Linked DNA regions of Homo sapiens. The protein of the gene in region 2 interacts with the protein of the main gene of each other region in a pairwise test. Each region holds a gene or a part of one and is shown on either strand. Other genes may lie near its edges.

Region 1 (7,303 bases), on a different chromosome or scaffold from region 2:
AAACTATATAAATACCTGAAAGGGTGGTAAATGTCTACATATCAAATATCCAGAGTTCAAATTCTTCTCAATTTTTTTTCCTTTATAATTGTTTTCAAATCAAGATCTAAACAAGGTGTGCATGCTGCTGACTGGTATCTCCCTTATCTGTTTCTCCACATGTTCTCCCTAGCTTTTCCCCCCACTCCTTGCAATTTATTTGAAGAAACATGGTCAGTGATTTCTGAAATTGTTCCATATTCTGAATTTTGCTGCTGGTATCCCCATGAATTCTTACTTTGCACCTGGGTCCCTCAAGACTTCAAAATCCCCAAAACTCTCTTCACAAGGCCACCCTGTCTCTATGAGGATACTGTGAGGACCTACTATCCACTCAGCTCTTTACATATTAAGCACCTTGTAAGGTACTTACCTTTTTGTAGTTGTACTTGACCCCCAGAGAACATGTCCACAGAGATAGAGCCAAATGATGGAGCCAATATTTTAAGTCCTGTCAGCCTGACTCCTCAGCCCGCCCCTTTCTCTCATACCAGGTGGTCCCATTCATTGCATTACGGGTTGTCGATCTATTCTTATTATTAATCTAAGCACTATACACTGGTTATACACTTTCAGTAAGTGGATGGCAAGCTAGCATTAACAGACAGCTTTTCCCAAAATAAGCATATTCCATGCCTACCAAAGAATACGGGTAAGAAATAAGACCAGCCATCTATGGGAGAAGGAGCCAATGCAATGGCTAGTCTTTACTGGAAAGAAGAAACTTTACAGCACATTTTGAGTAATTTAGTGCAGGTGCTCAGTGTGCCAGCTGCTGGGGCACCAGCTTGTAATGGGCTCCACAGCGGGGGCATCGCTGGGCCTCGCCTTTGTGCAGCCAAAACCAGACGACGCTGGTATTGTCCTCTTCACCTAAAAGGGAAAAAAGGTGGTTTATGGTCATCCAACCTAGAAAGGGAGACTTTCAACATGAATTTCTTTTCCTCAGACATCTCTGATACACAAGTAAGACTATGGTTGATATCTTAAGAGATCAGTTCAAGCCCTCCTCCCATTCTTCAGATGAAGAAATTGAGGCTCTGAGTTCACCTATGAGTAAACTGACCTTGTATCAAGGTCACTGTAAATTCTAACAATTCCCTTGCCTATGTAGAACGCAAAGCAGGGTCCGTTCTGGTATGTATCCCTAGTGTCTAAAATGATGCCTGGCATAGAAGCAGTATAACAATAAATATTTGCTGGGTGGGTACTCCTTCATGCCGCACTCCCAGTGAGCCAGTCTTACCGCTGTGCTGCGCTTCTTTCCAGTAAGGATGAACTATCAGGCATAATGAGGCTTGAGAGTGTCAAGACCCTTAGACAAACTTACCAACATGCACTCACACACTGAAGATTTGAGGCAGCTTACACACTATTGTAGGATATATTAAGCAAGTGGATAAAAAATAGAGGTGAGGTACTTACAGATGCAGCCTACTATTCTCTTGTTGGAGATGGAGGGGACTAAATTAGGGTCTTCCCTGGTGCCTGAAGCTCCCTTTGGGGCCAGTACATTGTATGGGTCCTGAAGAAAAAACAAAAAACAAAACAAAACAAAAAAAACAAGAATTGAACCATTAGGCCAAATAAGCCCTACCTTCCAGAAGCTCAGGGGACTGTTCCTACAAGCCAAGTTTCCTGTATCAAATACTCCCAGAGAGGAGACCACTATGAACACATCCAAGGCCATAAGTTACACAGAAGACACAGAAGGGAGTTTCTCCTTACCAGTCCCTTCTTTGCAGCCAGCATGATCTCCCTCTCCAACCCAGTCGCCTGCTCTTCATCAGTGGGAACACCACCTAAAGGAAGATAACGTGAATTATGACGCTGACTGAAATGACTGATAGAAAAACTACAAACAGAAATGATCAAGGAAAATGGTGCCCCGAAACTTCTGTATAAGTTTTAGCGGGCTCACAAGCTCCTAAAGGCTACTCATATCCATGGTCCCCTAAGAACCACCAAGTACCCATCCACACAAGCGGCAGCACTCGGGGGAGCTTTTTTTTTCTTTTTTGAGACGGAGTTTTGCTCTTGTTGCCCAGGCTGGAGTGCAATGGCGCGATGTTGGCTCACGGGAACCTCCGCCTCCCGGGTTTAAGCGATTCTCCTGCCTCAGCCTCCCGAGTAGCTGGGACTACAGGCGCGCGCCACCACGCCCGGCTAATTTTTGTATTTTTAGTAGAAACGGGGTTTTACCATGTTGGCCAGGCTGGTCTTGAGCTCCTGACCTCAGGGGATCTGTCCGCCTCGGCCTCCCAAAGTGCTGGGATTACAGTTGTGAGCCACCGCGCCCGGCCTATGAGCTTTTCTTTCTCCAACCACCGAGGCAAATTTGTCGACATTTGTCTAAAAGCATGTAGAACCCACTCTGCTTGAGGTGGGCGCAGGTTTGAAGGGAGGCCGGACCCCTCCCCATCCCGGTGGCAGCCCCGGTCCCTCCCAAGGTCACCCGGCACCTCCGTTTAGGATACTTTCGCAGCGGAGTGAGTTCGGGGAGCGGCAGGAGCAGCGGTCCAGAATTACAGGGAGATGCCTGCAGAGCCTGAGGCACTGGGGACCGTAAAGCGGCCACTGGGACCTCGAGAAGCTGCACGAGCCGCGCCGCTTTGCCGCCCTGGGACCACCCTGGGAGGGCAACACTCTGGTCCCTGGCACGCCCGGAGACCCGAGTACCTCCAGATGCCATGGAGCGCATCGCGGCCGCGCCACTGGGGCCGCGAGCCCTCAGGGCCTGCGCGGCCAGCGTTCCAGCTCCGCGAAGTAACCTTGAAGCCATTGCGTCCGCGACTAGCAGCAAAACTTCCGGGAACAAGCTGCAGAGACAGGAGGGACTTCCGGGGGCGGGCTTCTTTCTCCTCTCGGTCAGCTTTCGGCTTCCTCCCAGCCCTCGAGCCCGCCCACTCCCAAGACTGTGGCGGGGGCGGAAATTGCGCATGCCCAGCTCTGCCTCTTTCTGCACCGCGTAGTGGCTGAGGCTTGGGGGCGGGGTTGCCTTTAATAACGCTGGGAGGTGGGAAAGTCTTTTTGGTCCCTGGAGTTGAGCGGCTGAACCACATTGGAGTTCCTGTGGGTCTGGCCCCGTAGTCGTGTTCAGCAAACGTGGAGGCTGCTAATGGAAGCTATTAGGTCCCCGTCTGTGAAGAGACTTACTGAACCCCAAATGATTTGAATTTAGAAGTGGGCTCCTAAAGATCACTGCGTTCCTTACTAGGCTGGTTAGTGGCAGGGCTGGTTCTGGCAGTGCGTGGGCCGTCGCGAGCGTGTCGCATTGGACGGGACCTACCTGCAGTCCTGGCCCAGTTTCGTGTTAGAGTTGTACTGTGTGTGGGAGGCGCGGAGGTCCCGGCCTGGGGAGGAGGACAGGGCCGGGGGCGGGACCCCCTACCAGGACCAAGGCCCTGGTGATGTGAAGGAAGTGGCCACTCTTTTTCGAGGCTACTAAGGGAGGAGGAGCAGGAAGGGGAGTTGATAATAGGAAATGGAGTTAGAGCCTGCTGTGACTGGAGTTCCTTGTTTGAAACGGAAAACATATTCCGTCCATGGCTTCCCGTTGCCCATAGGCTAAGATGTGCAAATTTCTTAGGGTGAGCTTTAGTCAGTATAGCCCTGTGACAGGCTAGCTGCATGCGGTATCTGAGTTTCCCTACCAGATAGAAAAATCCCCTTAGAGTGGGAATTAATGCTCATCATTGAATCTTCAATGCCTTGCAGAGGTCTGGTATATAGTAGGATCCAGTAATTTTAGTAAATTTACTACTTGGATAGAGTATACAAAACCAGTTTATAGGGCTTTTCCTGGCCCAGTGAGGTCAATTGGAGGCAACATGGGGAGAGTTGAAGGCTTAGGTGCTCCCGCCTGTCTCATGCAGGCTACGGTATTTTCAAAAGGACGTGGTGGAGCGTTGCTTCACAGGAGCACGTCTGGTCTTCCTGGGTGCCCCCTCCACCAATTAAAAAAAAAAAAAAAAAAACCCTGTATTCTAAGGCCAAAATTTCTTTAAAGGTGGTTTTTGCTTTGAATGGCTTCACTGTTACTCCCTTCTCCCTCACCTCCACTGCAACCCCTCCAAGTTGAATTGGGCGAAAATTCTGAGGATCTGTAGTTAATTTGCAACTGTGGTTAAGGTCTTAGGCAGGAGAAAAAAGCATTGGTCTGGAAAGTAGCCCCACCAGCTAGTTCAGCTACTTTTTATCCTTTGGGCCGCCATTTCTACATCAGTAAAACTGTCGTTCAACTAGGTTAGTATTTCCCAAAGTGTATTGCATGGCATCCAAGTCTCAAGACATGATCTCAAGAAAAAGGACTTGGTCAAGACAGGGAGGGCCTGCATTTGATGACCACCCTTTTGGAGATGGACACTAGCATAATAAAGGCTCTGATTAGGCTTGCAGTAAAGACCTCTTATTTAATTTACCTGCAGTTTAAGCCAGAGTTTCCCTGTCTTAATTGACCACAAAATCCTTTCTGAGGAACACCTACTAACTTGCCCCTCAGCAAACCAGTGAGGTATTCAGCTCTGATATGTTATGATTCCCTGCTGCCTGACCAGAAGTGGTTTACTCCAGGCTATAAAATGGAAATTGAGTTTAGGCTTCTCACTCTCATAGTAGGCTTGCCTAATAATAGGAAATTTTCGCAGGCCCTCATCCAACTCAGGAAAACCTCAGCCTCACTCTGGGATTATTTAGATTGTGTGAGTGAGCTCCAAGGTCAGGTCCAGGCTCCCCAGATGTCCCCGCATCCCTTGCTGCTTCCAGCTCCCACCACTGTCAACTCACACCCAGTCCCTCAGGTCTCCTTTGGAAACAGTTGGCTTGGGGAACAGTCTGCCACCTCTGCTCTATCATTGTCTTTGCCAGCACAATAAACTTATTTTTATAGGATAATTTTCAGTTGTCAAAATAAATGTACATTATAAGTTGAACAGCACAGATATATAAGGAACAAGCTAGCAGTTTGGTGCTTATCCTTTTTTTCCTTTCCCTATGACAGAGTTTCTCAAGCTCAGCACAACTGACATCTTGGGTTGATAATTCTTTGAGGGAGGTTGTGCATTGTAGGATTTAACCCTATGTCATTAGCACCTCCCTGACATGATAACCAAAAATATCTTCAGCCATTGCCACATGCCCCCTGGATTTGCAAAATTCCCATTGAGCATCACTGCATATATGAATATAAAATATAAAAACATAACTACTATACAAAGTTTTAGTTAGTTGCTTCTTTCATTAAAAAATATTTTGTAGGCTGGGTGCGGTGGCTCACACCTGTAATCCTAGCACTTTGGGAGGCTGAGGCAGGCAGATCACCTGAGGTCAGGAGTTCAAAACCAGCTTGGCCGACATGGCGAAACCCTGTCTCTACTAAAAATACAAAAATTAGCTGGGAGCGGTGGTGGGCGCCTGTAATCCCAGCTACGTGGGAGACCGAGGCAGGAGAATCACTTGCACCCGGGAGGCAGAGGTTGCAGTGAGCCAAGATCACATCATTGCACTCCAGCCTGGGCGACAGAGCAAGACTCCGGCTCAAAAAATATATATATTTTGTAGATGTCCCTTCAGATCAATACATCTAGATCTTAACTTACGTGATGGCTGCAGAATATTCCCTACTGTGAATGTACGTTAATGTGCCCAGCCATTCTCCCATGATGAATATTCCAAAGGCTTCTAGTTTTTTGCCTCTCATACAATGCTGCAGTATATTCTCATACAATATCTGAGAGTATATTCTTATAGAAGCAAATATTTCATTTTCAGTAGAAGCTTATGCTCATTAACAAATGGCCATAAAATGTTTTTTTAAAAGTTGATAATTTTAAAAATAATATCAGCAAGCTTTTACCATTAAAATCTCCAAGGGGTTTAGTCCTTTTGATATTTTTCTGTACATGTTTTTGTCTATATCCACCTTTGTCTATTTTTTAAAAAAATTTTTCTAAAATAAGTCATATTTATTTATTGTATTTTAAAGCTCAAAATGTATTTAAACATTTTATTAATTTAGGCTCTTTTAAATAATATCTTATTTGATATGTTCAGTTAATTACTAGTTGGTAAGTTTAGATATAAAGTTTTTAAATGGCAGAGGTCTATTTCATAAATTATGAAGCCTGAGGTTGTCAAACCCTAATTTGATCAATGCACAATTTATACATGTATCAAAATATTATATCGTATGTCATACATATGTGCAATTTTTATATATTGATTAAAAATGAAAATTTAAAAATTATTGAAATAAGTTGTCATTTAAATAAAGGTTTTTTTGATTAGTTTGAATTTAGTAAAAATGCTTTAAATAAAATCACCTGAATATTTTTTATGCACAGTACCTATTTCATTTCCCTGAGTTTAAAATTAAATCAGCCATAGGTGCCAGACATTGAGGCTCTACTTGTCTTTTTCCAAAACCATCCATCATGGTCATTAGCATTTTGGTCTTCAAATCTAAAGACTGGTAGAAATTGATCAGTACTGAAGGGATTTACATGTCGATGAGCCAGGTGAGATGGTAGCAGATCCTAGATTTCAGTGAAGAAAGGGCAGAAATTATCAAAGAATGGAATGATGTATTCAAATATCATATAAAAATACTATCAGATGTGGGAGCAGAAATGAAAGTAGACTTGGGGCCCCAAAAAATCAAACATGAATTTGCCACGTGGGTGTTGTTTAATAATCAATGACAAAAGCCAGGCATGGTGGCTCACACCTGTGATTCCAGCACTTTGGGAGGCCAAGGCGGGCAGATCACTGGAGGTCAGGAGTCTGAGACCAGCCTGGCCAACATGGTGAAACTCTGCCTCTACTAAAAATACAAAATCAGCCGGGCCTGGTGGCACATGCCTGTAATCTGAACAACTCGGGAGGCTGAGACAGGAGAATCCCTTGAACCTGGGAGGCAGAGGTTGTGGTGAGCCGAGATCATGCCATTGCACTCCAGCCTGGATGACAGAGGGTGACTCCCTCTCTAAATAAATAAATAAATAAATAAATAAATAAATAAATAAATGACAAGATAAACCAGCACTAACCACAACTAGAGGGTGTTTGTAGAGGGCTATTTACAGAGATTAGAAATTGAGTTGATGTAAACAATGGTGGAAGGGTAAATCCTTTCATTGGTCCTCTGTACTGCAGAAACCTAATAAGGGAGGGGATTTAAGGATCCTATAATACATTGGCCTCCAAAAAGCAAGGCTTATTATTTATAGAGGCATTTGGAATTTGCTAGACTGTGGAAATCTCAGAG
Region 2 (7,572 bases):
CAGTTTATCCACTCATCTACTGAAGGATATCTTGGTCGCTTTAACATTTTGGTAATAATGAATAAAGCAGCTATAAACATACATATGCAGCGTTTTTTGGTGGACATAAGTTTTCAACTCCTTGGGGTAAATACCAAGGAGCATAATTGTTGGATATTATGGTAAGAGTGTGTTTAGTTTTGTAAGAAACTGCGGCTGTACCATTTTCCATTTCCATCAGTGATGAATGAGCGTTCCTGTTGCCCAGCATCCTCATCAGTAATTGTTGTGGTCGCTGTTGCCGATTTTGGCCATTTTAATAAGTGTTCAGGGTATTTCATTGTAGTTTTAATTTGCAATTCCCTAATGATACAGGTAAAGATAGATGTGGAGTATCTTTTCATATGCTTAATTGCCATCTGTGTATGTTCTTTGGTAAGGGGTCTCTTCAGATTGTTTGCCCATTTTTTTAAAATGTGGTTATTGCAACTAGGGAACTGGATTTTTTGTTTTATTTAATTTTGATTTGTATTTATTTATTTGTTTGTTTATTTTTAGGGACTCCTGTGCTCAAGTGATCTTCCTGCTTCAGCCTCCCAAGTAGCTGGAACTATATAGCATGCACCACTACACCCTGTTAAGAAAAATAATTTTTTAAAATAGAAACGGGGTCTTGTTATATTGCCCAGGCTGGAGTGCAGTGACTATTCATAGGTACGATCATAACGCACTGCAACCTTGAACTCCTGGACTCAAGCAATCCTCTGGCCTCAGCTTCCTGAGTAGCTGGGACTATAGGCTTGTGACACTGCACTTAGCTTGGTGGCCTATTTTTTAATGAGGTGGTTTGTTTTGTTATTGTTGAGTTTAAAGAGTTATTTGTGTATTTTGGATTCAAGTCTTTCATCAGATACATGTTTTGCAAATATTTTCTCCTAGTCTGTGGCTTGTCTTCCCATCTTTTGATTTCACTCTTTCTATGGTTTGTGTTTCTCATCTTTTCCATCTTTTTCCTCCCTTTCTCTCTCTCTCTCTCTCTTTTTTTTTTTTTTTTTTTTTTTTTTTTTTTTTTTTTGAGACAGAGTTTCGCTCTTGTTGTCCAGGCTGGAGTGCAATGGCGCAATCTCGGCTCACCGAAACCTCTGCCCCCTGGATTCAAGCAATTCTCCTACCTCAGCCTTCCGAGTAGCTGGAATTACAGGCATGTGCCACCATGCCCGGCTAATTTTTTGTATTTTTGTATTTTTTTTTTCTTTTTTTTGAGACGAATTCTGGCTCTGTTGCCCAGACTGGAATGCAGTGGCGTGATCTCGGCTCACTGCAAGCTCCGCCTCCCGGGTTCACGCCATTCTCCTGCCTCAGCCTCACGAGTGGCTGGGACTACAGGCGCCCGCCACCACACCCGGCTGATTTTTTGTATTTTTTTTTTTTTTTTAGTAGAGACGGGGTTTCACCGTGTTAGCCAGGATGGTCTCGATCTCCTGACCTCGTCATCCGCCCGCCTCGGCCTCCTAAAGTGCTGGGATTGCAGGCGTGAGCCACCGCGCCCGGTCAATTTTTTGCATTTTTAGTAGAGTCGGGGTTTCTCCATTTTGGTCAGGCTGGTCTGGAACACCCGACCTCAGGTGATCTCCCTGCCTCGGCCTCCCAAAGTGCTGGGATTACAGGCATGAGCCACCTCACCCAGCTTCTCCCTCTCTTTCATCAGTGCAGAGCATATCCAGTCTTTTCACAAAGCAAAACAAAAATCCCAAGTGCCACAGCCAGTCAAATCAAAAGAGATCTGCATTTGTTATTAGGATAATTCCTAAAGGGTCTCGGGATATTATAGAGCCCAAGATTTGAAAAAGAAAAAAAAATGCATCTGCTAGTTCAAGGAAAATAATGATAAATTATTTTAAAATTACATGAAAATAATTTATATAAAATAAATTAAAATAATTGAAAAGCATATATAATATTGAAATAGGAAGTCGGTAAGAAAAATAAACAGTGCTTAAGTCTCTGAAGAGGTCAGTCAAAGCCTTCAAAGCTCTCACCTAGAAGAAACACTTCTTTTATGAAAGTTCAGACAAAGCCACAAGATGACCAGCTAAACTCACACATTGGGTTAAGAGAAGAGGCAACAGGAGCACATTTCAAAGGGCTTATTCAGTGACGTTGTTTCACCAAGGACCCTATACTTGTGAAAAATAAAATAAAATAAAGTTTTCCAATCATTCTGTAAAACCACAAGAAATTTCTCTGAATAAGGAATTGTTTCCTTGAGAAAGAACAGACAGAATAGAGATGTAAAGAACCTAAAAAGAAAAAAAAAATCCCTGTTGAAGCACATAATGCAAATCTATTAAAATATTTTAGAATTCAGTTCCCCACTTCCATTTTTTCCTCCCTCCTTTGGTAAGCATAAAAACAAACATGGTTGCTGGTGATATGCAGAGCTGGAATCAGATTCATCTTGCTCTCTCAAACTCAACGTCAAAAAGGAAAACAAAGGTCCTCTAAGACTCCCTTTACATTTGGTAGTTAATAGTAACTTATAACTATGTTTTTAACTTTCTTTTGTTGAGTCATGGACTCTCCTCCTCCCTGGCTCCTAAGTTTTCAGGGTCAACGGGCAACCTTTTCTAAATCACAAGACTGGATTTGCTATGTTTGGTCTTGCTCCAGCGTCTTTATTATCCCTGCTGTTGTGCACTACACAGTTCTGTAGACACATGAGATAAAATGGAGAAAAAAAACCAGGAGATTATTCCCAGACCGGTTGCCAACTGATTTTAAACTGTTGCTCACTGCAAGTACACAAAATAATGAATGGTCTTTTATTCATGAGTCTTTCAAAATAGAAATCCTGGGGCGGGGAGGATTTCTAGTTTTGTCAACCTCATTTGTTCATCCTTTGCCTCAGCTTCCTAGTCTGTTCAGTAGTGTTGTTCACGAAGAATTTTGTTTTATTTTCTTCTGTAATTCCTTTTTTCCCCCCGGAGTATAATGACAGCCAGATTCTTCTCTATCATCTACTGCAAAATGCCTTGAGTATTTTTCTACCATCTTATTTTAACACAGAACGAAGTAGGAAGGATGTACATATAATTATTTATAATCCTCCAGATCTTGCTTCCAGAAATACTTAGTCTTCAACTGTAATGTCTCAGGGAACCTATTAAACTAGGGAGCTGGAAGCAGTCGTTGACTTTGAGGAATTAGATAACATTAGATACTATGAAAGTCCAGTCCATAGAGTCAACCTCACAGAGCCGATGCCTGCACAAGGGCGACCCAGGAGTTTAAATAAGTTGCTGCAAGTATGGTTAGCTACTGTTAAAACTCACCAGAACTGGAACCTAACTCATCCTCCTCTTGGTTGAGCAGATTTCATTTTGACAGGAATTTCTGAATACCCAAAGCAAACTCAAAGTCTGGCCTGGGTTTCTATCTCAGCCCAGGATGCTTCTGAAATACATGAACAGAAGGATTTGGAGATCTTGGGCTGTTTCCCTGGGACTTATGATCTGACATTCTATGGAAATACCCAACTCCCTCCTTGAGCAGGGCCAAATCCCCAAAGATCTCAGACTGAACCCACTTTTTTCAGGGTTGGCCCAAGGCAGAGCTGACACAGCTGTAACATTCTAGAGCACACCCACAACTCTGGATGAACCAGGACAGAATGGGGTGGAAGGATACAAGATAACACATTTGTCCAAGGGGGCCGTCTGTTGACACAGTAATGAACGCAGTAACGACGGGAGCCAGTATTCTACCTCGCATTAGTTGTAAATGAAACGTCTTCAAAACATGAGAATTTTGCGTTATCCTTAATTATTTTTTCATTTTGCAGAAAAATAAAGGGACTCGTCATCGAGTACTTTGAGTCACAAATCAGCCAAGTGTGCATGTGGTTTTTTTCCAAGTACGCACAAGAGTGGAACATTTCGTTTTACGAGTGTGAGATGTTTGAAATACAAATCTGCCAAGAGCTTCCTCCACATTGGTCTGGGACTAGGCAGAACAGGCCCTGACCTCCTGAGAGAGGGAAGGAAGACCAGGCAGGTCTGAGCCAGGTAAACGCCCTTGGGTGAGGTCCGTGAAAGATAAAGTCAGATCTCAAGGACAGAGAGCTTTAAACATGTTTGTGCTCCACTGAGTCGGTTACCTAATAAGTGAGAAAATGAAGATGTGGATGCACAAAAATTCCATGGCCTTTAGGCTCGCGGTGGGGACAGGGTACAGGGAAGCGGCGGTCTGGTGCTGCCAAAGGTTAGTCCCTTGTACCCGGCGAACTCAGGAAAGTTCACTCGATTTCGCTACAAACCTGCAGCACTCGGCCTGGAGGTAACCTGGTTGGGAGCGAATTCAGAACTGGAAATTCCAGGCGGCCCAGAGGGACACCCATCCCTCTCCGAGGCGCGCCGGGATCCGGCGCCCAGCTGCGGGGCGAGGGCAGGGTCCCGCGCAGCACCCCACCCCCGGCCGCTGGCCCCGCCCCCGCCCCCGCCCCGCCTCCCAGGGGATGTGCGAGCAGTCTCCGCCCTCGCGCGGGAGCTGGGAGGCTGCGAGATCCCTACCGCAGTAGCCGCCTCTGCCGCCGCGGAGCTTCCCGAACCTCTTCAGCCGCCCGGAGCCGCTCCCGGAGCCCGGCCGTAGAGGCTGCAATCGCAGCCGGGAGCCCGCAGCCCGCGCCCCGAGCCCGCCGCCGCCCTTCGAGGGCGCCCCAGGCCGCGCCATGGTGAAGGTGACGTTCAACTCCGCTCTGGCCCAGAAGGAGGCCAAGAAGGACGAGCCCAAGAGCGGCGAGGAGGCGCTCATCATCCCCCCCGACGCCGTCGCGGTGGACTGCAAGGTCCGAGCCCGGGGAGGTCGAGGAAGCGGGTGCTGGGCCCGGCCGGGGAGGGCTGCGCGGACTGCAGCGGCAGTGCGCCCCGAGGTGGCGGGCGCGGGGCTCGCGCCGCGGGGACAAGTCCCCGAGAGAGCCCGGCGCTCCCGTTTCCTGTGGGTCCGCAGCTCCTTTGTAAGGAAGTGCGTGTGCTGGAAGCGGTGCCTGACGCGGGGTCGGGGGCTTGGGAGGCCTGGAGAGGGAACGATTGGCTAATTGTGCCGAATTCCCGGTCGTTTGTGCAGTCCGGGGAGCGTGCGTGCAGCCAGGACTTGGCTTGTTCGATCTGGGGACCGGCAGCGACAGGCACAACAACAACAACCGAGTTTGGCACTTCCTTCCCAGTATAAATAATGTACCTAAAATGGCTGACATCATTACAAGCCTAAACCTCTGTTGTTTCCCACTTTCGTTTCTAGGCTTGAACAGCACTTGGACTAAGTCCAGCAACTGTAAGCGTCTTAATTTTAAAAGCGTTTCTTTACCTCCTTTTTCCACGGCCCTTCGGTAGTGGCAGGTGAACTTCACCTGGAGAGGGGACGAAGGGACAGTCCGCCCGAAGTAGGTTTGGGCTGTCTCTTACCATTACTAGTAAAGGCCAGTAATGACTATGTGGATGTTAGTGAAAAACCAATTGTTGGCATTTAAATTGTATCAGCGTCTTTGTGAGGACTCCTGCTGCGTGAAACTAAACATGAGAAATTTGCCCCCGGGTCCCTAATAAAATTCTCCTTTATTTTACAAAATCTCCCTTTAATCCTAGGAAAATTCATGAAGTGGGGCTGTTACTGTGTTGACTTTTAGTAGGTTACGATCATATTTACTTAAATATGAGTGTAATTGTCTCATAAGTTAAAAAAGCCCACAGCCTCTTACCCAGACCCTTTTTAGGCTGCAAAAATTAGAAATTAACTGTAAAGTTATGTTGCTTATCTTATTTTTTGTTGTTGTTAGCATTTTTCAAGACCTATTATCAGTAGGGTAAATTTAGTTTTAACTTAAAAAAATTGGTGTGCCACGTATGAATAATGGGAGTTTTTATATGGACGAATGAAAATTATTGCTGAAAAACAGGCCACTAATATACTGTAAAAAATTCACAATATAATGGTAATCTAGACATCATATTATAATTTATTATATTCTGAATATAATCTATCTTCAGAATATAATGGTAATCTTACTTTCTGGAAATGTTCTGATAAAAACAGACACGTCAGAGGTTGATTTCTAAATGACTTGCCTTGCCTTGAAATAGGAACAGTGAACTGATTCCCTAAAAGGATTAAAGGTTTTGGTTTTCGTATTGGTATTGTTTTCCTGAAGCCATTGCAAACAATCTTGGTCTTTAAAGAAAATGTTTGGAATGCACAGATGAAAATTGCAGTAGCAAATTATTATGTTAGCTCTTTGTTTATCTAACATTCGTTGTACCTAAAATAGATTGAGAGTCAAGTATCCAGTCACAACAGTCTCAAATATATGTAGTCTTAATGCTATCACATATATATATATACACACATACATTTAAAAATCCTATTAACAAATATAACTGCTCCCATTTAGAAAGGAGAGAGTGAGCGAGCATTGGATGATGTCACTTCAGACAGCTTTTCTCTGTTCCGCTGTAGTGGAGATTTGAAACTCTGGACAAACATCAGAATTACATTTGCTGAGCACCATTAAATCTGACTTCTGACAATTTTTGTCATTTCTGAAATAGTGACTCTGCCAGATTCTCAAAATTGCTCACGAGTTCACCATATTTAAATTTTGTGGTCATTGCAGCTATAAGTAATCATTGGTAGCTCCGTGCTTTGTTTTCCATTTTTTATTTTCTCAGATCCTCCATATCCAAAGAAAAATACTACTGGGACTAAAGAGTGAGGGCCAGAGTCGTCTTTGTAAACCACCCAGCAGTCACGGATGAGTTGGTAGATAAAAAATGACTAATTCTTTTTCCAGCTATAAGCTGAAAGACTTCTTTAGGGGATGACAAAATATTTCTCTACATTAAAAGTAGAATCCTTATAATCAGTCAGTCGCTTAACGGGAAAAGGAAAACCTTAATGACAGACTTTTGTGAAAGAAGTTCTGATCTCTTCATTTCAGAGCTTGGGCAGTGATTACATAATGTTCTCTGGCTCCTTGCGGGTGGCTCTGTGGCAGCCACCTTGTCTGACTGCCTGGACTGGGAACAGAATCAGCCTTAATGTGTTTTGCCGAGGGCATTTCCTTTGCCTGGTTGGTTGAAAGAATCAAACCAAGCTAGTTAATGGCCTAGAACTCCTGAACAAGAATTTTTCTTATCTTTAACCCTCCCAGATCACAATATCCCGCAGACCATTGTTTTCCAAAATGTGCTCTTAGGGACCACCTGCTCTGGTTTTAAAATGCAGATTCTGTTACCTTATGCCACAAGAATTCTGATCACTCTAATCAGCTGGCTTATATAACATGCATTCCAGTACTTTTACATTGCTCCTGTCTTTCTATTTTTTTCTTCTGCAGGGTGAGAACTCTCCAGAAACAGTTCTATTACCCCATTTTTCAGTCTTATCTTTTCAGCAGCTATTAATCCTAACAGCCATTTCTATTGATAGTTTTATCTCAACTAGCTTGCTGTTTATTCTTTTCCTGCATTTTCCCCTTAATTGTTTTCACCTTCCTCCTCTCCTAGTAGGCATAAAGCTCTTAGAGCTATAGAGACAGCAAAG
Region 3 (7,025 bases), on a different chromosome or scaffold from region 2:
GTTCCACAGTGCAGTCACTGAGAAGGGGCCAAATGTGCCTGGTTCCAAAGGAAGATCTTCATCTGTGCATTTCCAATGCCCTTTATGGGAAACATGGAGCTACAGAAAAATCTCTGGGTACACATCTGCCAGGTGGCATTAGGTCGGACAATCTCTCATGGTTTGGTGCACTGGCAAATGTCTAAATCAACTGCCGTAATATGGCATTAAAGCAATTTGCATATTGTGGCTGAGTCTTGAGCTGCTCAGCACAGAGGAATATGATAATGCAACAGCTTGTCTTCCTCACGGAGACTAAAAGGTAGGGAGCTAAACTGGGGTAATTTGAATGGTTTCAAAGGGCCAGTTTGGCTGTCTTAAGAAAACAATGATCTATAGCTGATAGCTTTGTCTCTCTTCCATTCAAAGGAAACATAACTGTGGCCTTTCCCACTTATTTTCCTGGCACAATCTCCTCACTACCTAATTCTTTCCGGAATTATGTTTGACCTCTTCAATGGAGCCCTCTCTGACTCTTCCAGTTCTTACAGGTCCCCCATTCTCTGTGTTCCTATACCCTGACATAACCTAGCATTTAGATTATATCTGGATTTTTCCCCCTTGTTCTCATTAGGGGCAGGAGCCATACCTCTTCCATGTTTGATTCCCACAGCACTGAGCATATGAGGTTCAATAACTATGTGACAACTAACTAAAATTCAACCACACCCTTAAATTATCATTCTAATATTGGCTACCTGCTTCCATTTTTTAAAAAATTTGGCACAAAGTTGTCACTAATCTCCCTATTTTACCCACCTTCACTTGACTTCTTCAGTGGATTTTGAGAGCTAAGAACAAATTTCAGTCTATCACAGTTACATTCAGGCCACATATCACCCACATAGACCAAATCCATTTAATATGATTGGCACATCCTCACATGTCAATCTCCAGCCAAGCACCATAGAGAGAACTGAAGGTTTTATATGATGAACACATGGCCATGGTCATCTAGAACCAACTGTCTTGCATCAATTTTAGTGAATAAGTCATAACTTGTTTTTCTTCCTAAGGGTTTCATGACTTACTCCACTAACTGAATGAAAAGGCAAAGTACAATATTAAAATGAATGCTTTGCCTTAGAAATGGCAAGTAGGAGTTTAAGACGGTTATTCTAATTTAAAATTCACATACATAAACATTTATAGCTTTTCGTTATCTAGCAACTAGGCTTCAGTTCTTGATTTTGCATCTCAGTGAAGTTCCAGGCCACCAATTAGCATTAAACAAGGGAGTTTGAGGATGAATATATGAGTTTATGATGGCATTACAAAGTATTTAATGATTCTGATTTGTTCCTCTTATATCACCAGTGTGGACAACTGAGAATTGAAAGTGAATACAACATTAGCTACAACCTAAAAATACATTGGTATTTTAGAATTCCCAGGGTTGACAGTGTTGAATTTGTAAATAAAATACAAGATTGAGTAACAATAAAATATACATACAAGTACAGAGGTGAAAATTCTTAGTAGACATGTCATGTGATCAACCTTTCTGAGAAGAAAAACATGACTTTTCCTAATGCACATAGTTTTTCTTAGGTATCTAAATTAGTTGCTTAAAAGTAAAATGTACACTTTTATATGACACTTAAAGAAAATTTTGAGTTATAGAAGGAGATGCTTTTATAAAATAAATGAACAGCCATTCTGTCTTGACAATAAAATCCACAATTCTAAGAGATAAAATTGACACATATTTCCAGATACTAAATGTTTGGTTTTATAAGAAAAAAGTATTTTGAAGTAGGCACAGAGGGGTTTTACATGACACCAATAAGATATTTACTGTATAAATTGCACCACTAGACAAATACAGCTACAAGAAAATCATTTGAATAAGTCACACAGCTATCAAAGCATCTCACACATTCATTATAATTCACTCTTTCATACTAGTTTATATACACTGAGTGAGTCATTAAATATTGCACTTATTGGCCCATGAACCCTCAATTCTGAGGTGTTGAAAATAGAAAACAAATCTATTTTTATAACATATTTCATGCAACATTTAAGACATATCAGTTCTACAAACACCATTAAATTGTTGTACATTTGGACAGTCTAACGGTATCACATCACGTCTGACATTAACAATATATTAACAGGAATTACAGGACAGTTTTCCTTTAGCACGTATCCTAGGGATAATGAGACAATGCATGGAAAGCCATCATATTGATACAGCAAACAATACCCAAACTTTACTTTTACAAGAAGTATGGAACCACTTGACAGATGTAAGTCATGCTCACGTCCCTGAAAGGGCAGGTGTCTGAGGGGCTCAGGTACCATCTGTGTCTGTAAGAACAGCATTCACGAACCTAAGCAATACCTAGCCCCAAATAACATGAATGCAAAATAATTTGCCTCAAGAAATAAAGCCACAGCCAACTCTCACTTGTCCACGATGAAGGAAATATTAACACAGGTGAATGAAATACACAGGTAACCTCAAACCTCATTTCAGCAAGTAATGACTGTTTGAAACTCCACCAGTAATGGTTGCTGATGGGAAGTAAATGGTGAAATTTGAGTCTCATTTTCTATTCTTGGTCCTGTCATTCCATGAGGATAGTGTTTTGAAAAACTGCAGTAATTTAAAAGAAAGTCAGAAAGTAAAAGAGAACTGCAAATAGAAAGTTCAATTTGTCCACTAGCTAGATGGTCTGATCTTAACACTCGAGCTCTGAGTGAGGTTTTAAAATGACTCATTTCTGTTATCTAGAATGCTTGCAAAATTTATTTCCCCTCCACTCTCTCTGTTTGGAGGAAATTAATTACATGCACAGACTAATCAAACGAAATCAGTGTGAAGAACCGATTTTATGGACCTTATAAGTAAGATGTGAGTTATAGCTGGAACATAGTAAAAGCTCCCTTTTCCCTAGCACTGAGAAAGCACCATAGATGGAATTTTGCCTTCTTAAAAAAAAGTATCAGTGTTTGCCTGATACCTTTGTACAGGCGAGTGAGCGTGTGAGTGACTGTTGAGAAGGGCAGCACTGTATGTGTAATCTAAAAGCAAATATTTCAATCTATCAAAGGGAAATATTATTTGACCGGAGTGTCAAGCATTTCTGTAAATATTTTTAAGAAAAAAATTATTTGTGAAATACCAGTAACAATAGGTAGATACATTTTAGATAAATCCCCCAACTTGGTTTTTCCCTGTTAGGGGGTACTATATTTCTACAACCTAGAGCCCTTTAGATACAGTGCTGTGCAGGGGTAAAGGCTTTTTTATTCTGGTCATAAACTTCATCTTTTACTTAATTTGGCCCAGTAAATTCCATGATATAAAACAGGTTTATGTCTTTAATTGACTTTGGTCAAAAATTCACCTAAAATATGAAGAACTCCCAAAAGCTGGCTCAAAGGTTCAGCATATCAGAAAGACTTCACCATTTTACAGGCAAACTACTAAAGCGAAGGTAATCAATGCACACAGGCAGAGCTGAGCAGAGCTGTAGAGGTTGCATTTTCCAGGGAGTGACAGAAAGGCCACATGGGTGTAGTTGCTCATGTGGCACCCGGACAGCACACTAAGTGACTATACACGCAAAGGAACAGAGTTCCGGGTTCTAGTCATGCAAACTGTAATTGTGAGAGAAAGGGTTCTTCAGACGGACAGGCCAGCTCTGAAGTATGCCACACCAAAAATAACTGATTGAGCATTCCAGTAGTACTATGAAGATTATTAACAAACACACAGTAACTTTTTGGTCTAGAAGGGTTTTAGTTATGACTTTTTTATAAATAAGATTCATATCACAGTTTTTCACATGCAGGTGTTACCTACCTCAGCTTGGTATAGCTTGGTAGTTTGGATATGCTTTTAATATAGTCCCACAAATGCCACACTGTTAACTAAAATATCACATAGTACATCCTCAACCATGCACTAAGATACATGTTGGATAAAGCACATCACAATGAACCACTGATTATGGACTACCATGCTCTAAAATTAATGTTGCTTCATGGAAGTTCAGTTAATAGTGGAATGTATTTAACTTTTAAAAGAGAAGAAGAAGGTTGTATATACCCGAAAGTCTATCGTCAGCATAGATGTATTTAAAATTGAAAGTTTAAATTGGTTCCTTAAAAAATAACCAGTGTACTAAACAAAAGGCCTATAATTAATATGAATAAGATTTAAGTAGGTGAAATATATATATTTGTTTACTGAGTGTTTTGATGTCTTGTATAATTTGGGTTGTAACTTTGTAGATTTTGTTTATTATCACAATGCCACAACTTTCTGCTACAACTGAAGGCATTGTCATAGTTTTCTTTCCAAGTAAAAATCTTAGCACTTAGTTACCAGGCAGCAAAAAAATACTGAACTTCAAGTGACCCTAAGGAGGAACTAGAAGAACCTCCTAGCTTTCACAGTCATTAGAAGTTCATCAAGGCAGTTGGAGCTGTTCACTGGGGGCAGCAACAATGAACTGATTCATTGTCCTGAAGCAATTCCTCTTATGAGCATGTAGATGCGATGCTAACATTCAAACTGCCATCTTAGGACGCTTTGTGCACCTTCTACTTCCATCCCCATCTCCAAAAACTGAAATGCTGATTCACTCTGAGGATGGCTATTTAAGTCAAATAATTTTCAGTCTAATTTTTCAGTTGCATTAGGAAAAGAAAGGAAGGTACCAACACCAAAGCTCTTGGAAGAATCGATTTGGAACAGTTCAGGTTTATTCCTAAGGGTATCTAGAGGAGTGAAAGTGGTCAGGTAATGAGTAGCAAAGGAAAATAAATTCATACTTAAAACACTAATTTAATTAAATCAAAGACAAGAGATAAATGTGTATAACTTACAAACCAACAGGAGTATGTACTTTTTAAAAGTCTTGTTCTTTTAAATATAAATTTAGTTAGGCCATTGATAAAAATGACCTGCATTTATTTATGTATTTAGACTATTGATAGATGATGGTATAGTGTGTGTGTGTGTGTGTGTGTGTGTGTGTGTGTGTGTTGGCCAAAAGGCTGAAAAACCTTGGAACTATAGTGTTATAATTTATAAGTAACATAGCTCAATGCCAATGAAAGCCCACTTAGTTAACCTTGGGTTGGTCCCACCATTTGCCAAATTTGATGTTAAAACCCGGATTTTTTGATGCAATTACAGCAGGAGCATTTAAGTGTTCTTTCTCTTGAGCTCTGTGACTGTTTCTCTGGAAACCTCTCATTGAATTATTTGGAATGGAAATCCTAACAGGGTGGGAGTTTCAGAACTGAGAATCAATGAAAAAGGCCTCACTTCCATTGGGGTTTAGAAATTAGAAAGTATCAGATGTTTCTTGGCAATGACATTTGGGCTATTGTTGCCTGTCTCTCCCCTGACTGGCATAAAATGTTTCCACTTCGGGATGTTTGACACTGTGTAAGTGGGAGCTTGGCTTAGGGCTTCCCATCTAAGGGCCAATTAACTTCAACAGCAATCAGTTCTTCAGGGAAGGGGTTTTCAGCAGAGCAAAACTCTGCTCTTTCACTTTTAAATACTGTCTCATTTTGCTTTTCATTTTACCACAATACACACATCAAGGTCCTTCCTTCTGAAAAAGCCATCAGAATATTCTTTCTAAGCTTTTTACATCTATGTGTGGGATGAGGGCTGTGAAGGAGGATGAGAAGGGTTTCCTGGCTTTATTAGTTCCTTTTAGATTGTAAAAGTGAGCTTAATAGCTATATCATTTAACATGGCCACATTCTGGCCCAAGTTACAGAAATATTATAACATTGTACAAACAGACTACTGCTACAAACAAATCTGTTTTTATGCCTCCTGCTTCTTTCTCTCCCGTCACTGTAATTCCTGTGATTTTGAAGTTGGTTGCCCCATTAAAAACTAATAAAACATTAATGTTTTCTTGTCTTTACTATGCTAAGGTTTGCTTTGTAGGGCACCAAAGTAGAAATGTACTACTGATTAGTGGATCTTCAACTAGGAAGGTGAGAAATAACATGGAAATGCTTAAAGCATTCCAAATGCTCTCTCCCCTAATTTCCAACTTTTGACTTACTAATGTGTGTGACCTAGTTCTGTGACTTGTAAGGATTTATTCTCCAAAGATATCTTTAGATGTATGCCTGTTTCATTTGCATCCAATACTTTCATGGGAAGCCTCTCTATTTTTGAGAAGAGGAAAAAAATTCTTTGACATAACCACCAAAAAAGTAGAAAGTTCACTTAACGAAACTATCCTTCCAAATCTGCCAAATAATTCCTGCTTCCTTCCTAAATCCTAGCTTTAAATAATGCTGGACAGTGATACAGAGGCCAAATTTCCCTGTTGCTCTCTGTACAGCTGGTAGGATTTGTTGTTTTCTCTTTATTCATATAGGTCCTTTAGGAAGTTTGTGATACAAAATTAGAATGCTCCAGTGGTTTCCTCCCTCTTTTAAATTGCTATGGATCCTAAATATTTCTGAAATTGAAATACTACAGTTATAGAATGTTTCCTGTGTAACTTAAGCATTCACGTAATAGGAATATGCTTTAGAATTTATGAACATCTGGACTTAAAAAGATGATTAAAGATTAAAATTTTCCTTTTTCTCAACTGGGGACCCTTTGAAATCTGATTTAAATAGCATCTAAACAGGTAAAAGAACTTAGCTGAGGTTTGAGAAGATGGCCGTGTTTGGGGAGGCAAGTCTACATCCTACGGAAAGAGGAGCCCTAACAAGCTTCAACATAAGCTCTAGTCCAAGAGTTGGTGATGGTTCCAGAAAGTGATGGTGGTGGTGGTGTGCATTATGGGGGTTGGGGAAGGCAAGTCATTGAAAAATAAGGGGGCTTGGACCTTGGAATTCCATAGCTACTCATACCCTTCTTGGTTAAAATGCTTGTTGCATAACTGGCATTCAGTAGATATGTCTCAATCTGTTCAATGATGTTGAATATTCACAGAATTGGGAAGGATCAGTGGAAAAAGCAGTCCTGGGTAGATACTTGC
Region 4 (7,025 bases), on a different chromosome or scaffold from region 2:
ACCCACCTGGAAAACCCATGCTCCACAAGGTATCACAGCAGCTATTCGCCACCTGTTTTTCATGGTCAGACAGTAAGTCCTTCCTGTTATTTAACCTTGTCCCACCCACAGGTTACAGTGGCTTGAATCTTCTCTTGCTCTGTCCTCAGTTGAAAATGAAGCTGACCATGGCACCTGTGTCACGCTCAGCACATGGGCTTGTTTATTCAAGCCATTGGGAGATGCTAGAACTCACTCCTTGTCCTACCTGTCAAAACCTCCACAGGCCTTGGAAAAGAGTAAGTGGTAGGGCCAGGCACAGTGACTCACGCCTGTAGTCCCAGCACTTTGGGAGGCTGAGGTGGGCGGATCACTTGAGGTCAAGGAGTTTGAGACCATTCTGGCCACATAGTGAAACCCCGTCTCTACCAAAATATATATATAAATTAGCCGGGTGTGGTTGTGCGTGCCCGTAGTCCTAGCTACTTGGCAGGCCGACGCTGGAGAATTGCTTGAACCCAGGAGGTGGAGGTTGCAGGGAGCCGAGATCGCGCCACCGCACTCCAGCCTGGGCAACAGAGTGAGACCCTGTCTCAAGAAAAAAAAAGAAAAAAGGCTAAGTGATGAGATTCACTGACCTTGAAAGACCAAGCAAGAGGACACCCAGCCTACAGTGCGCAGCAGAGAGGGTGGCCCCAGAGTGACAGCAGCTCAGGAAATATGGTGACAGAGGATAAGTTGGCATGGGAGGAGGCAGAGCTTGGCCAGTTTGCTTTGAGGAAAAGGACCTAGGAGTCCCAGCTCCCCCACGTCAGAATCCCCCCAGTTCTGCTGATTTCCTCATTCTCCCCAGCACAGCCCAGCTCTCCTATTTTGGGAAACACCTGGCTATAGTACCCAAGGCTGCGGTACTAAGGATGTACTCAGGTGCTGTCGCATCCTGCCAGGAGAATCTCAGGGCAGCTCCAGAACTCAGAAAATGTTCTGGTTCCTTCCCAGAACTCTCCCCTGCCCAGGCACCTGAAAGAGAAGGCTCCCAGGAGAGACAGAAGTTAGTCATTAGGTATGGGGGCTTCCCTGGGAGGTGTTTCTCTTCCTGGATTTTCTTTTTTTGAGATGGAGTCTTCCCCCTGTCGCCCAGGCTGGAGTGCAGTGGCATGATGTTGGCTCACTGCAACCTCCGCCTCCTGGGTTCAAGCGATTCTCCTGCCTCAGCCTCCTGATTAGCTGGGATTACAGGCACGTGCCACCATGCCCAGCTAATTTTTGTATTTTTGGTAGAGACAGGGTTTCACCACGTTGGCCATGCTGGTCTTGAACTCCTGACCTCAGGTGATCTGCCTGCCTCGGCCTCCCAAAGTGCTGGGATTACAGGTGTGAGCCACTGTGCCTGGCCTCTTTCTGGATTTTCAACTGGAATTTTCTGCCCAGCCCTTTATTGGAGAGGCCCAAGAAGGGTTCCTGACCTTCCACCTTAGTGCTTTTAGAGAGAGCACAGTCTTTCTCAATGCCCCCTCACTCCCAGCTAAACTCTTCTTTACTGGTCTGGGGAGTAGAGGAGAGGTTTGGAATGACAGGATGAGTGCTCCAGCAAGGGCTTGTGTGCAACCCGAGGCCCAATCCAGGAAAGCCAGTTGTGGTGGCAGGGACTGGGTAGGCAACTTATGGAGCCGGGGTCTTGCTGGCTTTGTCTAATTTGGAGGGTGGTTCTTTGAGCTCGATGGTTTTCAACCTTTTTATTGCAAAAACTCTTTTTTAAAAAAATATAACCCAGAAGTCCACTGTATAAAAACAATAAAAGCAAAGTTATCCTGGGATGCTCAGGAGATTTGGGGCGGGGGGATGGGGATGGCTTGGTGACAGGAAGGGCGGGGATCTAGAGTGTTGACTGCTCCCAGCCTTCTCCCTCACCGCTGAGGTCCCTTTACAGAACCCTGCCAAGCAGGGAAGGAGAGGAAAAAAAGAAAAACCACCTGGTCCTTCTTGGTTTCTGAGACTCTGAGCCCTCATAGTTTTCTACTGCTCTGATCATTTTCTCTTGCTCCCTTGTCTATACCTAATATTCTTTTCCTAATCATTTTTCTCCTTTCCCTCTCTGTTCCCTCAAAGAACAAGTCTATTTTTTAACTTGGCCTCTCTGTGGATGAGTCCTGTCTGCCTGTCCAGTTCTAACTTCTCTCCAGATTCCCACTGTCAGCTGGTGGCTGAATACTTCCACGAGGATGACCCACTAGCATCTCAAAGGCATGTCCCAGATCGTAGAACACAGGAAGGAAAGGCCCCGGTATTTGAACCCCTACTCTGTTCTTCTTAACAGAATCACTTTGGACAAGACACTTAGTCTCTCTGGGTCTCAGTTTCCTTATCCCTGAAATAGATATGCTAATACCTATCCCTTATAATTAAAGCAGAATAATAAACATAAACTTTGGTAAACTATATTGTACTTCCTGGCTGGGTGCGGTGGCTCATACCTGTAATCCTAAGACTTTGGGAGGCTGAGGCGGGCGGTCACTTGAGGTCAGGAGTTTGAAACCAGCCTGGCCAACATGGTGAAACCCCCATCTCTACTAAAAATACCAAAAAAAATAGCTGGGGGTGGTGGCGGGCACCTGTAATCCCAGCTACTTGAGAAGCTGAGGCAGGAGAATCACTTGAACCAGGAGGTGGAGGTTGCAGTGAGCTGAGATCGCGCCACTGCACTCCAGCCTGGGTGACACAGCGAAACTCCATCTCAAAACAAACAAACAAACAAAAAAACTATATTGTGCTTCAAAAGCTTTCCCCTGTTGCTTTGTTCCCTGACAAAAAGTCAGAGAGGTTAAATAAAGCCATCATCTCCTCTTCCCTCTCTCTCACCCCATACATCTCATCAAGCGCAGAGAATAACTGGTTAAACGATGGATGAATGCTGATTCCTCCTTTCTACCCTCACTGCCACCATCCTCTTTCAGGCCCCCGTATCCTGAGATCCTTGTTTGCATGTCTAGAGTCATGATGCTAGACTCTCCAAGTTATTCTGCACACTGAAGCTGTTTTCCTGGAACTAAAATTAGACGATATCATCCCTCTTCTCGTATACCTACAAGGATTCCTTACTGTTTGCAGAATAAAACCCAAAGTCCTGTCAGCCCCATGGCATCCCCACCATGCCTTCTGGCTTCTCACCACAGTTCACGCTTTTCTTCATGAAGTGCTCCTCCTCACCACTCTCCATATTGCAAAGCTTTCTCCTCTTTCAAATACCTCCGTTTTGGCTGGGCGCGGTGGCTCACGCCTATAATCCCAGCACTTTGGGAGGCTGAGGCGGGTGGATCCCTGGGCGAGACTCCCTCTCAAAAACAAAAACAAAACAAAACCCTCCTTTTCCAGCAAGCTGTGCCTAATACCATGTCAGAAGTAGCTGCTTCTCTCTGTGCACTTCCAAGATCCACTGTTTCACTATTTGTACCAAATGCATTTGGTTTTGTGTAATATTTAGGTATTATGTCTATGTCTCACATCAGATTGTGAGCTGTCCAAGGGCTAAGACTATGGCATTATTTTTCTCTTCTACACACAGTAGGCAAGTACTCAACAAATATCTGTTAAACTGAATTGACTATCACCAAATTTCACTCCTAACAGTTACCTTATTATCCTATGTTTGGTCAGTGATGCTCATAATATCAAAATGAGATAACATCCTTTTATTTATTTATTATTTATTTAGAGACAGGGTCTCACTCTGTCACCCAGGCTGGAGTGCAGTGGCGCAATCTCGGCTCACTGCAACCTCCACCTCACGGGCTCAAGCGATTCTCCTGCCTCAGCCTCCTGAGTAGCTGGGTTTACAGGCATGCAGCACCACACCTGGCTAATTTTTGAATTTTTAGTAGAGATGGGGTTTCACCATGTTGGGCAGGCTGGTCTCCAATTCCCAGCCTCAGGTGATCCACCCGCCTCGGCCTCACCTGAGTGCTGGGATTACAGGCGTGAGCTGCTGAACCTGGCCCTTTCGTTTAAAAGAATAAAAATACTTTCTCTAAGAGCTACAGTTCTGCATTTACAACTGCCTGTCAACAGTTCTGTTTAGAGGCTTGCAGCTTATGTATTCATTCACTCAATGTTTTTTAGGTGTATGTTCTGAGCTTGGTATTGTTATAGATTATTATAACACAAAGAGAGGATACTGCAAAATAAATAAATAAAATTAAAAAGACATTGTCCTTAAGAGCTTGAAGTTTTGTTTGTTTGAGACAGAGTCTCGCTCTGGAGTGCAGTGGTGCAATCTCAGCTCACTGCAACCTCTGCCTCCTGGGTTCAAGCAATTCTCCTGTCTCAGCCTCCCGAGCAGCTGGGATTACAAGCGCCTGCCACCACGCCTGGCTAATTTTTGTATTTTTAGTAGAGACAGGGTTTCACCATATTGGTCAGGCTGGTCTTGAACTCCTGGCCTCAGATGATCCTCCTGCCTCAGCCTCCCAAAGTGCTGGGATTACAGGCGTGAGCCACTGCGCCTGGCCAGAGCTTGAAGTTTTATGAGAGAAACAAACACAAAAACAGTTGTAATACATTACAAGTGTAGTAATGGAGATATAAGCAGGTGTAATGGGAGAATGGAAGAGGGATGCTTGTGATAACTTCTTCTTCCCCAAGACAAATGGCACAGTAGGAAGAACAAGGATGAAACAGGTCTTAACTTACTGGCCTTCTACCTGGCCAGTGGTTTAACCTTTCAACCCCATTTCTTCTGCTAGACACTGTGAGTGATAAAGACCTTTTTTTTTTTTTTTCTTTTTTGGAGACAGGGTCTCTGTCATCCTCTGACAAGCTGGAGATTGCAGTGGTGCAATCACAGCTCACTGAAGTAAAGACCTTTTATATATTGCAGGAATTGCTGTAAGGGAAAAACTAATAGGAGGCTAAGGTGGAAGTATCACTTGAGCCCAGAAGTTGGAGACCAGCCTGGGCAACATAGTGAGACAATTTGAAAAAATCAGCTGGGGCTGGTGGCATGTGCCTGTAATCCAAGTTACTCAGGAGCCTGAGGCAGGAGGATCACTTGAGCCCAGGAGTTACGATTGTGCCCCTGTACTCCAGCCTGGGCAACAGAGAGAGACCCTGTAATTAATAAACAAGCAAATAAATTTGTATACAAGTACTATAAGCCATCCCCTCCTGCCACCTTTCCTATTCCCACAGTCTTGTTATCCTCCAGTTCACCCCAGATCAGAATCTCAAAACCATCTTTGATGCCCTCTTCCTTTCCCTTCACACCAATGTCACCAAATCCTTCCCACCTGCCCTGGCACGTTCTCTGCATCCTGCCCTTCCTTTCTCTTTCCATCTTATTGCAGCCTCATGCCCTCCTTGTCATAGAGGGCCTCACACCTGGACTGTTGTGACAGCCCCCTGTGCCTGTGTCTTTCAGTCCTACTCTTTTTATTTTTATTTATTTTTTGAGACGGAGTCTTGCTCTGTCACCCAGGCTGGAGTGCAGTGGCGCAATCTCAGCTCACTGCAACCTCTGCCTCCCGGGTTCAAGAGATTCTTCTGCCTCTGCCTCCCGAGTAGCTGGAACTACAGGCACGCGCCACCACACCCAGCTAATTTTTGTATTTTTAGTAGAGACGGGGTTTCACCATATTGGCCAGGTTGGTCTCGAACTCCTGACCTTGTGATCCACCTGCCTTGGCCTCCCAAAGTGCTGGGATTACAGGCGTGAGCCACCACACACAGCCCCCACTCTTTTTAAAATTCAGATGTCTCTTCCTGAAAGATTGCTTTCTTCATGTCATTCCCCTGCCCCAATAAATTCAGATTTTCCCTTATATCTGAAGGCCAAAGTCCAAACCTTATAGTCTCACATTTAAGCTTTATGGCTATTTGGCTCTATTTTATTTACCCAAACTTATCTGGTCTTAGCCTAAACCTGTAATATTAACAGGACTGGCTCTCTATTGTCTCCTAAACAACCATGCTTAAGCCCTAACATCCATAACTCATCCTCTCATTCACTGTGGACTCTCCCAATTTTAAGGGGGTAGGGTGGGAAGGAGCAGACATGGACATACGTGTAACGTGCAATTACAGTACAGTGGGATAGTATGGTGCCATCTGCCCCCTGGGAATAGCCTGCCACTCCTGTCCATCCTTCAAGACCATGCTCAGAGCACATGTCCCTGGTGCGGCTTTCCTGGATGAGTTTATCACTTTCTGAACACCTGTGGCACTCACTCTCTGCACTCCTATAAATACATTATTCTCTTTTCTTTTTTTTTTTGAGACGGAGTCTCGCTCTGTCACCCAGGCTGGAGTGCAATGGCGTGATCTCGGCTCACTGCAACCTCTGTCTCCTGGGTTCAAGCAATTCTCCTACCTCAGCCTCCCGAGTAGCTGGGATTATAGGCGCCTGCCACCATGCCCAGATAATTTTTGCATTTTTCGTAGAGATGGGGTTTCACCACGTTGGCCAGGCTGGTCGCGAACTCCTGACCTCAGGTGATCCGCCGGCCTCAGCCTCCCAAAGTGTTGGGATTACAGGCGTGAGCCACCGCGTCCAGCCATAAATGGTTCTCAAATTTGAGGCACAAACTACGGGGCCCCACTGTCAGAGATCCTGTCTCTAGAGGTCAGGGATGGGGCCAGGGAATTTACATTTTTAGCTGACTCCAATGAGGGTTTGCCGACCTCGCTTTGAGTATATCTGCATGGATGACCTTGTACTCGTCACTTCCGCCCTTTCACTTCCACTGTAACTCTATGTGGGCAGAAAACATGTCTTCTTGTCTCTTTGTGGATCAGCCCCCAGGCACCACCAATTAATTGCCTAGCACAGAGAAAGTGCTCCCCAAATTTTACTTTTTCTTGTTCAGAATACAATGCCATCCAAGTTCTCATTTGGCACTTACAACAGCCGCGCCAGGTAGGAAGAAAGGGCGTCCTTCTTACAGACAGATGGGGAGAGAGTCCAAGCCACCAGAGAGCAGAGACTGGCTGATGCAGGCTTAGTTAGAAATCATAGTGCAAGCCACACAGTTGCTTTAGTTGTGGGCTCCCTGGCA

Evidence for each region.
Region 1: the proteins of ITM2B (region 2) and COX5B interact in binary tests that used the Homo sapiens proteins (3 or more experiments, as listed by UniProt).
Region 3: the proteins of ITM2B (region 2) and RAB3C interact in binary tests that used the Homo sapiens proteins (3 or more experiments, as listed by UniProt).
Region 4: the proteins of ITM2B (region 2) and BACE1 interact in binary tests that used the Homo sapiens proteins (3 or more experiments, as listed by UniProt).

The regions. Positions count from the first base shown.
Region 1 is NC_000002.12:97,641,605-97,648,907, reverse strand, and holds COX5B (cytochrome c oxidase subunit 5B, mitochondrial precursor), read right to left. Parts: upstream 2,847-7,303; 5' UTR 2,822-2,846; coding exon 2,719-2,821; intron 1,842-2,718; coding exon 1,768-1,841; intron 1,565-1,767; coding exon 1,465-1,564; intron 913-1,464; coding exon 800-912; 3' UTR 525-799; downstream 1-524. UniProt on the Homo sapiens protein: Component of the cytochrome c oxidase, the last enzyme in the mitochondrial electron transport chain which drives oxidative phosphorylation.
Region 2 is NC_000013.11:48,228,656-48,236,227, forward strand, and holds the start of ITM2B (integral membrane protein 2B), read left to right. Parts: upstream 1-4,550; 5' UTR 4,551-4,705; coding exon 4,706-4,822; intron 4,823-7,572. UniProt on the Homo sapiens protein: Plays a regulatory role in the processing of the amyloid-beta A4 precursor protein (APP) and acts as an inhibitor of the amyloid-beta peptide aggregation and fibrils deposition. Plays a role in the induction of neurite outgrowth.
Region 3 is NC_000005.10:58,852,053-58,859,077, reverse strand, and holds part of RAB3C (ras-related protein Rab-3C), read right to left. Parts: 3' UTR 1-7,025.
Region 4 is NC_000011.10:117,306,237-117,313,261, forward strand, and holds part of BACE1 (beta-secretase 1 isoform A preproprotein), read right to left. Parts: intron 1-7,025. UniProt on the Homo sapiens protein: Responsible for the proteolytic processing of the amyloid precursor protein (APP).